2 separate regions of the Homo sapiens genome follow, and region 1 is linked to region 2. Evidence: fine-mapped expression QTL. A gene starts in region 2. The other region holds a variant in brackets. All regions are shown on one strand. Distances are between the middles of the regions.

Region 1 (5,386 bases), 27 kb after region 2:
AGTGCTAGAAGGAAGACAAGGATAACATTGGTCATCTGATGTTCCTTCTAATGCAGAAAGTATGCTTGGCTTATATCTGCTTCTGAAAAGTACAGGGCTAGTATTCAACTGAAAGATAAGTTTCCCATTATCTGTCACATGAGGATACTTTAATTCCCATTAATTGAGGATGAACCAGACCTGGAAAGATATTTATTGCCCAAGGGAATTACATTGCTTTATGAAAGCAAAATTTGCTTTCATAAAATGGGTAACATTTTCCTCTATATCATCTCTGAGTTTCTTCCTATGTAGAAGGAAAAAAATCAAGGGTTTAGATTTTCTTAAAGACACAATAGTGGATGCATTCCAGTGATAGTAAAGAAGGAAGACATTATGAGCTGAGAAGGAGGATGTATTATTATTACTATTTTGAGTACATCTTATTCACTAGAGTAGCCTCCCATGGCACTTTACTCTTGTCCATTAAACAGAAGCATGAAAGTCTAGTTGCTATCATTCAACATAATACAATTTACAAGGACATAGCTATGAGGTTTTATTTTATATAACTAGTCTGCTCTAATGACAAAGTATAAACACCTCTCTTGGGCAAACTCTTTTAGAGATGGATTTACTAGAATAGGCTGTTTGTTGTAGTTCTCTTGTCTATTAGCCTCACATCTAAAGCCTGAATGTCTCTGTAGGGAGGCTGTGAAGGGTCTTTTGTACGCCTCACTAGAAAAAAAAGGAGGACTTAAAAGCTTAAAGGTAGCCTCTATTACCCCCACCTCCTACCCCATTCCTCTCTCTCTCTTTCTCTTTTATTCCTCTCCTTCCTTTCTCTTTCTTTCTAAGTCTCTCCCTCTCTATCACAAAGTTGGTTTTGAAACTTGTTGAAAAGGATCAAGGAGGCAAACAAATTGGCTCAAATAATGGGAAACATTGGAGGTTCAGGCCAATAAGAAGGTATAGGCTATGCTGAAGAAGGAATTTCATGGGGAGATGTAGGGCTCTGGTTCTAGGTACTGGACAGGGTTTCTGGAAAGAAGGCCATGTAGGGGCTTGCTTTAGTCATCCACTGCTAACTCATTAACTATTAATTCAAGCAATATGTATTGAGTGATGAATTTTTTTCATAACCAGGAACTATGCCAAATATTGGGGAAAGGATAATGACCAAGACAGACACTGTCCCTATCTTCAGGGAGATTGTAGGTGAATGGACTGAGCTATACTCTCTGTATCTGCCTCCTTCTGGTCAGCAACCAGCAGGTTTGGCCTGCTTAATCTCAATTAATAACTAGACTTGCACATGGCTGATATGTCCTCTCCTGCTCTAACTCCACCTCCTCATTTTTCAGCTTCTAATTCCACTTCTAAGGGCACTCAGTTTCTAGATATTGATTTGTTCAAATTCCAAAGAGAGAGAGAGAAGGGTTAGGTGAAATCTGATTGACGCTGCTCTTTGCTGTGCCAAGTCAGAGATGGAAGTTCAGGCCTAAACAGCTGTGGCAAGATTGGGTCATGGTCCAAGACATGGAAGACCAAGACATGGCCCTTCCTCTGCACTGTGAGTAGACATATTTCCCGCTATAAGACTGCTTGGGCAGATAGAGTAAACATTACAATACCACCAGCCTCTGATGACTCAGACCTGCTCCTGAACCTTAAACCTGCTTTTTAAGACTTAACAATGATAATTACCATTAATGAACAGTTTCCCGGAAACAGATTTCTACCATTACTTTGGGGTTCAATTATCTTGAGTGTATACCTATGAGATACTCATATGGCTACTATGACACTTTAAGCTAATGAAATTTGAGCTAACCTCTTATTTTCATTTTTATTATTTTCTTTATTTTATTTTTATTACATTTTTATTTCAAGAAACTCTTCAAAGCAGAAGGACGAGATATAGGTGCAGTCTTGTACCAAGGAACACCTTAGATTTGGGTGTGAAACTTCTCTATGTTAACAAGTACAATAAGCTTTGCTCATTTGATAAACTTCAGGTGGTAGTTACTGTTCCATTGGTTTCTTCTGCTAGCATCTCTTGTCCTTCTTGTATATTCAACATAAAACTAAAAGTATTTCCTTTGTACATCAATTTTCTTGGTCCAATTTTTTGAAATGTCAAGATTAGCTAAGAGTCTAAGAAAAAGCCACAAAAAAAGGAAGGGATACCCTCTTCTTTCTAATTCAGAAAACCTCTCAGGTTAAAAGGGTATATGTCATGGCACATATTATGATATGAGATCAATATGAGAGACATTGATCTTAGGCCTCCTGAACCAACCTACTCATGGTTAGAGTCCTTTCAATTTCATGCCACCCATCTCTCTTTAGTTTTGGGGTAATTTTGAAAAATGCAGCAAATCTTCCAGTCTCTAACACATCATTTGATACCTTATTGTATTAGAGCAAGAGTTCTCCTTTTCAGAAAACCAAAT[T/G]TGATTTTAGAAAAAATTACTGGAGGCTGGGAGTGGTGGCTCATGCCTGTAATCCCAACACTTTGGGAGGCCGAGGCTGGTGGAGTACTTGAAGTTAGGAGTTCAAGACCAGCCTGGCCAACATGGTGAAAACCCCGTCTCTACTAAAAATACAAAAAACAGCTAGGCATTGTGGCACACAGTTGTAATCCCAGCTACCCAGGAGGCTGAGGCAGGAGAATCTCTTGAACCTGGGAGGCAGAGGTTGCAGTGAGCATTGCACTCCAGCCTAGGCAACAGAGTGAGACCCTGTCTCCAAAAAAAGAAAACAAAACAACAAAAGAGAAAACATTCTGTCGGCTGGTTGTCTTTCAATAACATTCTATGCTAATTTTTTTAAAATATGGTTTAAGCTTTAGATTCCACTAATATTTATTGACACCTAGTATGTCAAATACTGTGCTAGGCAGCTTTTACGTACTTTGCAGTACTTCATTTTACCTTCAAAACAAGCCTGATAAGAAAGGATATTCACTGCATTTTACAAATGAAGATACTGAGTCTCAGAGAAATTAAGTGACTTGCTGAAATAAATGAAAACATGTTTTATCTTCTGAAATTCAACATTAATCTCAAGTCTAAGACAGGAATAGGCAGTCCTGTGTTGATCTTAAGGGTAAATGTTAATTATTTTTAGTTCATTCTTCTCCTTGAAAGTCCACTAGGAGGAAGAATGAATAAAAATAGTGTACCATTGTCCATCCATCAGGATACTAATGGACCATTGTGCATTTTGCAAAATAGAGAAATAGTCTCTGCTTTTCTGAAGCTCTGCTAAGTAAGTGAACATGTACTTTTTATAAGGCTGAGATATAGGATGAAAGAGAAGAAGGGTAATAACAAGAAGAGAGTTTTTGCTGTGCATTTACTTTCATAACTGAACGTATTGAGAAAATGCTGAATGTAGAATTCAAGCTCAGCAGATGTAACAAGGCCCAAAATAACAATGGCTTAAACAAATTAGAAGTTTCTTTCTCTCTTACTTAATAGCTGGAGTTGGGTAGTTCTGGGTGTTGTGGAGGTGCCCAGGGTCAGACACCTGAAGTCTATAGTTTTTCTATACATTATTCAATTCTGGTTTCTAGTCTATCATGATGACCATTTATATAAGATACATTTAAAAATCTCACGCATATTAAGATGCATTTAAAAATCTCATCATCATTTACTAAGAGCTAATGGTCCCTTGGAAATAAGTAAAAATGCACGAGTGCAGTCAACTAAAGGGAGATTGGGTATAGTAGGGCCTGGGTAATCTGTAGACAGCCTGAGCAATTGCAGCAGGGAATTAGGACTGCTGTGAATGATACGGCAAATCATTTCCTATAGGGATTTGGTATCGCACAATTGTAGGAGAAGCTGAGAACACAAAGGTCTAGAAGGGGACAATTGGGGAAAAAGGAAAAATTTATTAATCAAGGCACAGAGGGAAGCTGGTGAAGAAGTATGTGGAAGACTGCGGTCTTGGCATCTGGTGGTGGCCTTCTGAAGCTTCTGCTTGGCAGCAGGGCAGGCCGGAGGAAAAGCTGGACTCAAAGCAGAGGGAAGCAGAGACGACTCACTGAATCCGGTAGACAAACTGGAATCCATGGGAGGAAACTGCAGCACTCATGTCTTTCGCCACATCACTCCAGTGAGGCAGGCGACCTGCAGAAAAACTGCTGCCTTCTCCCAGAGCCCAGTCTAGTGCTTGGAGAAGTTGTAGGAGGAGATCTGGCCAAACTCGCTGGGCCCTCACTCCAACAAGGGGAACCAGTGATCGGCAGCAGGGTGCACGAGCTGCGGTGGTGGCTAGGGCCCGGCACCAATGCCTCAAGCACAGCACTGTAGGGTCACTTTGGCCTTCCAAATCATGCAAATTTCTCTTCTTTCCAACCCTAATCCAGAGCTACCCAGGGGAAGGGAATTCTGGGAAATGTCCTTCTAGCTTAGCTAAGTAACACAGCACAAAATCATCACAGTAACAGACTCTGGCCTAAGAGAGAATACACGTGACTGTGGGGGAAAAAATTTCAAAAGGTCAAGGGCCCTAAATTCAGTCCATTGCTGTGATAAACTTTAAAAATCAAAATGTTAATTATTCAAATATATGACTAGCTTCCATTCCATCTAAAATAAGAGGTGAGGTCATTTCATTAAGGTCTCCTCGCCTTCTGTTTCTTTAGCTATAAAACTGAAAAACACATTTGCTAATGCATTATAAAGGCTTTCATGCTTGTTTTCTCAGGAACGTTAATTATCTCCCTTGAGCTGATGACTCTCGCTTATTTCCAGTTCCATCGTCTCACATGATTTCTAGCTCCTTTTTTCCCAATGAGTACTAAACCTTTCCCCCTCCATGCTTCACTGTCAGCCAAACACAACAACCCCAAAGCTGAATTCCTTTTCCTCTTGTACCAGGGTTCTTTACCACTTCCATTCCCTTTCTAGAGGGCAGTCACTCTTCCTGCCACTCGGAGCGATGCTCTGGGGCTTTTTCTCAGTTCAGTCAATCATCACAACGGCTGTTGCTTTTATGGTTTCCTTCCTATATCTGCCATCCTATGCTACCTCTTATCATCTCGTTGTCAGATTACTGGGATACCCTTCCAGAAGTCATTGTCTATTCCAGGCCCTTCTCACACCCATCCATCCTCCAGACCACTGTCAACCTAAAATGAGTGACCAACTCTCCGAAGCAAAGAGTTTAATACGGAATAGCGGGGGTGTTGCAAACCTGTGATATGCATGCTGTGATGGTTCATAGACATATCTGGGGGTTGGGGCAAAGGGGGAGCTTTGAAAGACAAAAAGAATTCCACATAGACTGTAACCAAAGGTTACAAAGACCAAAGGTAACATGAGTTTGTTACAGGAGTTGGCATTAGCTTATTGGTTGGTTGAGACAGACTAACTAGGCAAGTGTCCTTGTG
Region 2 (5,386 bases):
AAGAATGAACTGTCTGCTGTCTGCTGATTATGAATTCCTTGAGTGGAGGAACAGATTTTAATAATGGAAGTGGCTCAAACTCCAGGGAAGATGGATAGCCTGTGGTTATACTTGGTCTAAAGGAATTGGCAGAAACAGAGAGGAAGGACAAAATGTCATAGGCAATCATCATATGGATTTTAATATTTAAAAACTAAATAGTTATTTAGTCACTAAAAGCTCTATTTGTGAGCACTCATTTATCTAACAAATATTTATTAAGTGTCTACTGCATGCCTGGCATTGTGTTAGGAGCTGGACGAATGTGCAAGATAGAAATAGGTGCCTGCCCTCTTGGAGCATACATTCTAGTGTTGCTAAAGTTTATTGGATTTACAGGGATCAGTCTGTCAGCCAGCAAATACTTACTGAGTATTTGCTGAGTGCCAGACACGCAGAATACTATAATAAACTAAACAAACATAGTCCATACTCTCATAGAGTTTGCAATCTAGCAGAAAAGGCAGATTTAATTGAATCACCGCATTTAACTGTATTAAATACATTATGGTGTGCAAAAGGCTGGGAAGGAGAAGTACAGGGTTCGTAACAGAATTGAGGCAGAGTTTCCCCCCTCTAGTCTGGGTGAAAAAAATTTTCTCCCCTAAACTTTTCTCTGAGTTAAGAGATTGAGGTAAGTACAAACAGAGCTTGAGATAGCCAGTGGCCCCGGTCAGGTCACCAGCAGAATAAAGAACAGAATTAGGAGCACCAGGAGGTGATGTTGTCAGTTGCATTGCTGAGCATTCTTTTTGACTCCTGGTTGGCTTACTATGCCTGTGGATCTCCTGTATGGTTTGGCTACACAAAACAGAGTGAGAACTGTTGAACTGCTTTTAACCATAGTAAAGTATTCTGGAATTAGTTTTGTCTTCTGTCTAGTCAAGCACTATAGCAAACACTCTAACACTCCCATGGGGCCAAGAAGCTGCTAGAAACACAGGTTGTGGGATCACGAAACAAAGCAATGATACAACTAACCCATTGCAAGAACATTTTCCCCCTAATGAGGTCATTGGTTCTGAGCAGAAAGAAGTTAGAAGCCAAGAGAATATAGAGAACTTATGGGAAACATATGTGTCTCACAGATAGAAACTGGGACTCCTATATAATTATAATGCACCCTGGGAACAAATAAAATGAGTTGTTTCAAACCATGGTTGCGTTACACATTCTTTAGTGGGGACACTGATGTGTGGGATTCTGAACTTCTCACCCTCTTAATCATAAGGGGCCTGGATTATGCCTGGAGGACTTCCATTTTCTAGCACTATCAGCAGACATACAACGGGTACATAATAAAGACTAGTTGAATTATTATAGGTTTGTTTCCATTTGCTACCTGTTTCCCTGAAAGATAAGAAAAATATAGAATTATTTAATGACAAGCAAAGGAAATGTACAAATAAGTGAATTTAGAACTTTGAAGTGATTCAGTTAAAATGTTGAAAAGAAGTAACAAAAATTTAGCTTCTGCTTATACAAGCACAAATTTGTTTTTCTGTCCAGAGAAATGCCTATGACTAAAAGCCATATTTCACGGCATCTTCTTAAAGTCGAGTAGGTCTGAAACCATAGGAAGCCAAGAAAATTAGAGAAGGACAAGGCTGGGAAGTTAGAATATAGGAGAGTTACAGCTTTAGACCTCCTGGATTCATAATCTCAGCTCTACCACTGATTAGCTGTGAGACTGTAGCCAAGTTACCCAACCTCCATTTCCTCTTCTATAATGTTGGTACCTGCCTCAAAGTCATCATCTGCGTTATTGCGCTTAGCACAATTTCTGGCACATAAGTGCTCCACACATGTTAGTTTTTATTCCAAATGATTTTTAAGATGATCTCAATTTCCTCTATAAGGCTTTTTTTTTTAATAAACATGATTTGTTGAATGAATAACTGAAGGTAAAATGTCATAACCCTGTAAGACTTTTTTATAAATATGTTCACAAATCAGAAAAAGATCCTCTCTCATGACCTGATTTTGTTTGAGATTACATGTCCACCACACGCACACAATGGGCCACTTAGTCTGGCCTCTCTGAGTGAGGAGTATCCTCCTCCTACCTACGCAAACATGAAACCTAACAGAGGATTCAGTGTTAATTTGTCTCTTAAAGACAATTCTGCATTAAGAAATGGATTACTTTGCTATAACCTCAGCATATAAAAAGTCTAAAGAATCTGTGCATTCTGAGTTTGTGTATTTTTGGTCTCAGGCTGTGATTTATCTGAAAGGCCTTGGAGAGAAAGATATAGGCCTTTACCTAGACCAAAATCAGGTTGAAACAATAAAGGTATTTTATGCTTTGTGTAAGCTGGTAAATACCATGACTTTTGGAATAACAGTCTTGCTGAAAAATTGACACACTTTTCCTTCTGGTATGTCTTTGCATAAATTGTTCCTCTTTCTGCAAGATTAACTGATACCATCTGTGAGTATTCTATCCCCACTCTCAGCTTGCATTTAAATCTGCATGTTTCCTTTCTCTGCCTCTTTTCAAAGGTGCTAGAATACAAGAGCTACCCTTAGCTAATGGCCAAACACTCCGTCTGAGTTCCCTTTCTTTTAACCCCTTGCTTCCAACTCTGCATCTAAAGGCAAAAACAATCCTCTGACTCACGGCCCTCCCCCTGCCTGTGATAGGCTGCTTGGAATAGCAACAGCCTGTGTCACCGAAAAGGGCAAAGCCTTCGGAAATAGAAACAAAGTTGGTCACAAATCACATTAGCTTTGCCCGAAGTTTTTCCCCACACTCTTCTTTAGCATGCTATTATGGGGAAAGTGACCACTCCTGGGAGCGGGGGTGGTCGGGGCGGTTTGGTGGCGGGGAAGCGGCTGTAACTTCTACGTGACCATGGTACCTGTTGAAAACACCGAGGGCCCCAGTCTGCTGAACCAGAAGGGGACAGCCGTGGAGACGGAGGGCAGCGGCAGCCGGCATCCTCCCTGGGCGAGAGGTAAAGTGAGCCTGCAGTGCTCGGGTGACCGCAGAGAAGCAAGCTGTACTCATCTCCCGAGTGTACTGTCTCTTGAGTCCCGTGTGTGTGTGTGTGTGTGTGTGTGTGTGTGTGTGTGTGTGTGTGTATGCGCGCGCGCGCATGTGGGCGCGCTGGATGAGTGGAGAGAAGGGGACAGGGTCTGGTGGGACGTGGGACAGCTCGGAGCTGTAATGTTGTGAAGATCGAAGTCTTGGTGGAACCTTATGTGCCAAGAAAATACAGGTTACACATCCACCACTGGTATGATGGGTCCCCTTGATTGTGTTTACATAATACAATGTATGGATGTTTTTCATATTGGAACGGTCCACTGGCAAAGATAGTCTCATTTGTAAACACACACAAGCACACGCTTGCTTACACTTTTTCATTTATTGTCACAAATGGACACTGTGTAACCAGTTGACATTATAACCACTGTTTTAAAAATCAGTATTTTAAACAGGCTTCATAAAATTATTAGTTATGTAATCAATGAGAACACAAACTTCCTTTTTAAATTCCCAGCACGTTTGTGATGAATTTGAGCGTTATTCAGAGCCTGAAACGCTTGCTTTGCTGGGTTCTGCCTTCTTTAAAACTGGCCTTGCAAACTGAGGTTTGTTTGCTATGATGACCTTCTGAAGGTGAAATTTGGAAAAGTTTTAATTCATTTAATGATCTTTGATAAATCAGAGGCTGGTCTTCACTTCCACATTTACAATTCCCACAAATACATTGTACGCTTTTTGCTGCCTCTTCCTGCTCATTTAGTTTGTGCTGCAAGGAATAGAAAGTAATTGTAATATGAAATGACAACAAACACAAAAAATCTTCTCTTTCCTACTACTTTCCTCAGCTGTGTATTCTTAATCAGATATTACATTCCCAAGCAGCATATAGAAATTTCATGCAAAATCCAATACACTAAATGATACAAAAGACATCTGCCTTTCTCTTGGGAATGGTCCTAATACTGACGTTTGCCTTGTGGGTTTGTCTGATCTTGGGGAATCGAACCTGTGACCCCTAACATCGAGGCATGAAGCGGCCCTCTTCAGGAGTGGAGAAGCCCTCCATCTTCCATGTCCTGATCTCTTCTCTTGCTTTCACACTTCTCGTCAAGAATGAGGCCGGGCGTGGTGGCTCATGCCTGTAATCTCAGCACTTTGGGAGGCCAAGGTGGGCAGATCACTTGAGGCCAGGAGTTCAAGACAAGCCTGGCCAACAGAGCGGAAACCCTATCTCTACTAAAAATACAGAAAAATAAAAAAATTAGCTGAGCATAGTGGCACATGCCTGTAATCTCAGCTACTCAGGAGGCTGAGGTACAAGAATCACTTGGAGGTTACAGTGAGCTGAGATCATGACACTGCACTCCAGCCTGGGTGACAGAGTGAAACTCTGTCTAACATAATAATAATAATAATAATAAAAGAATATCTGGGGTCATCTTTCAATATGGCCTGTCCTCTCCTATGCAGAAGTACCCTTTTCCCTAAGCGCTTGCTACTCATTGGCCCACAAGTTCCCTAAGAGCAGGCAAGGGAAACTTATATTTGGAGATAAAGGGAAAGAGTTGCAAAGTTCTTTTCTCCAAATTCCTGGGAACATGAGCTGCAGTCTAGACTGCAGAGCAAGCTGAGGTGGTGATGTTAACAAAAGGGCTCACTAAATACAGTCAGTGATAATGTCACAAAGAAGATGAAAAGAAACTGCCTAGGAAGAGCCTTTGTAGTAACCATTAAAAATGGACTGTTTATTTTGATATGGCTTTGAAGGTACAATGTGCTCTTAATAGCTTATATTGTACAAATTCACAATTATCCAGAAGAAAGATAATGTGTATTTACATTTGCAATAGTTGGTTACATGCACAAAATTCAACTTAAAGTGCAACTGTTTATGTTGTAAAGAAATAATAAATGAATAAGTACCATAAATTATCTTTCAAATTTAATTTTAAATTAACTTTCATTTTGTAGAAGAGAAAGCCTGAATGTTTCCTTAAAATGTCAGATGAATACAACTTTGATTTGTGCTATACATAATCTGCATTTAGATGAATGCAAACCTTTTATTTTCTACTTTTGTAAATTTTCTTAACTTATCTTAAACATCTTTTGGCACCCAAAAGCAATTATACATACATATGTATAAATGAATGCATAGTGCAGACTTGCTGTATGGTTTTCTTAAGTTACTTAAAGTCTCCATTCATTAATATTGGGATTGTATCTTCATCTATTTTATGAAGGTGTTGAGATTTAATGAGGTAATATTTGTCAAATACTCCTTTTGGCTTCTTCATATTTTCAACTTCCATAGTTTTCATTTAAGACATTCAGAGTATTTAAATTATGCTC

Direction of the effects. Positions count from the first base shown, and alleles are read on the strand shown. Sizes are in standard deviations (SD) of each study's normalised expression.
In carriers of allele T in region 1, the expression in cartilage of the gene that starts at base 2,753 in region 2 tends to be lower than with G alone (large effect, 1.1 SD a copy in Steinberg 2020).

The links. PIP is the estimated chance that this variant, and not a neighbour inherited with it, causes the effect.
Region 1: its variant is the best candidate, but not a certain one, in a credible set for the expression of SLC2A12 in cartilage (Steinberg 2020, PIP 0.53).

Annotation. Positions count from the first base shown.
Region 1 is chr6:134,022,920-134,028,305 of GRCh38, reverse strand. The region is part of intron 2 of SLC2A12 (solute carrier family 2 member 12); the gene reads left to right. Among named protein-coding and RNA genes, the nearest start is that of SLC2A12, 27 kb to the left of the region's middle. The variant T/G (reference allele first, on the strand shown) is at 2,436.
Region 2 is chr6:134,049,991-134,055,376 of GRCh38, reverse strand. SLC2A12 (solute carrier family 2 member 12) reads left to right here and starts at 2,753. Exons shown (of 5, transcript NM_145176.3): 1 at 2,753-2,999. The coding sequence starts at 2,897.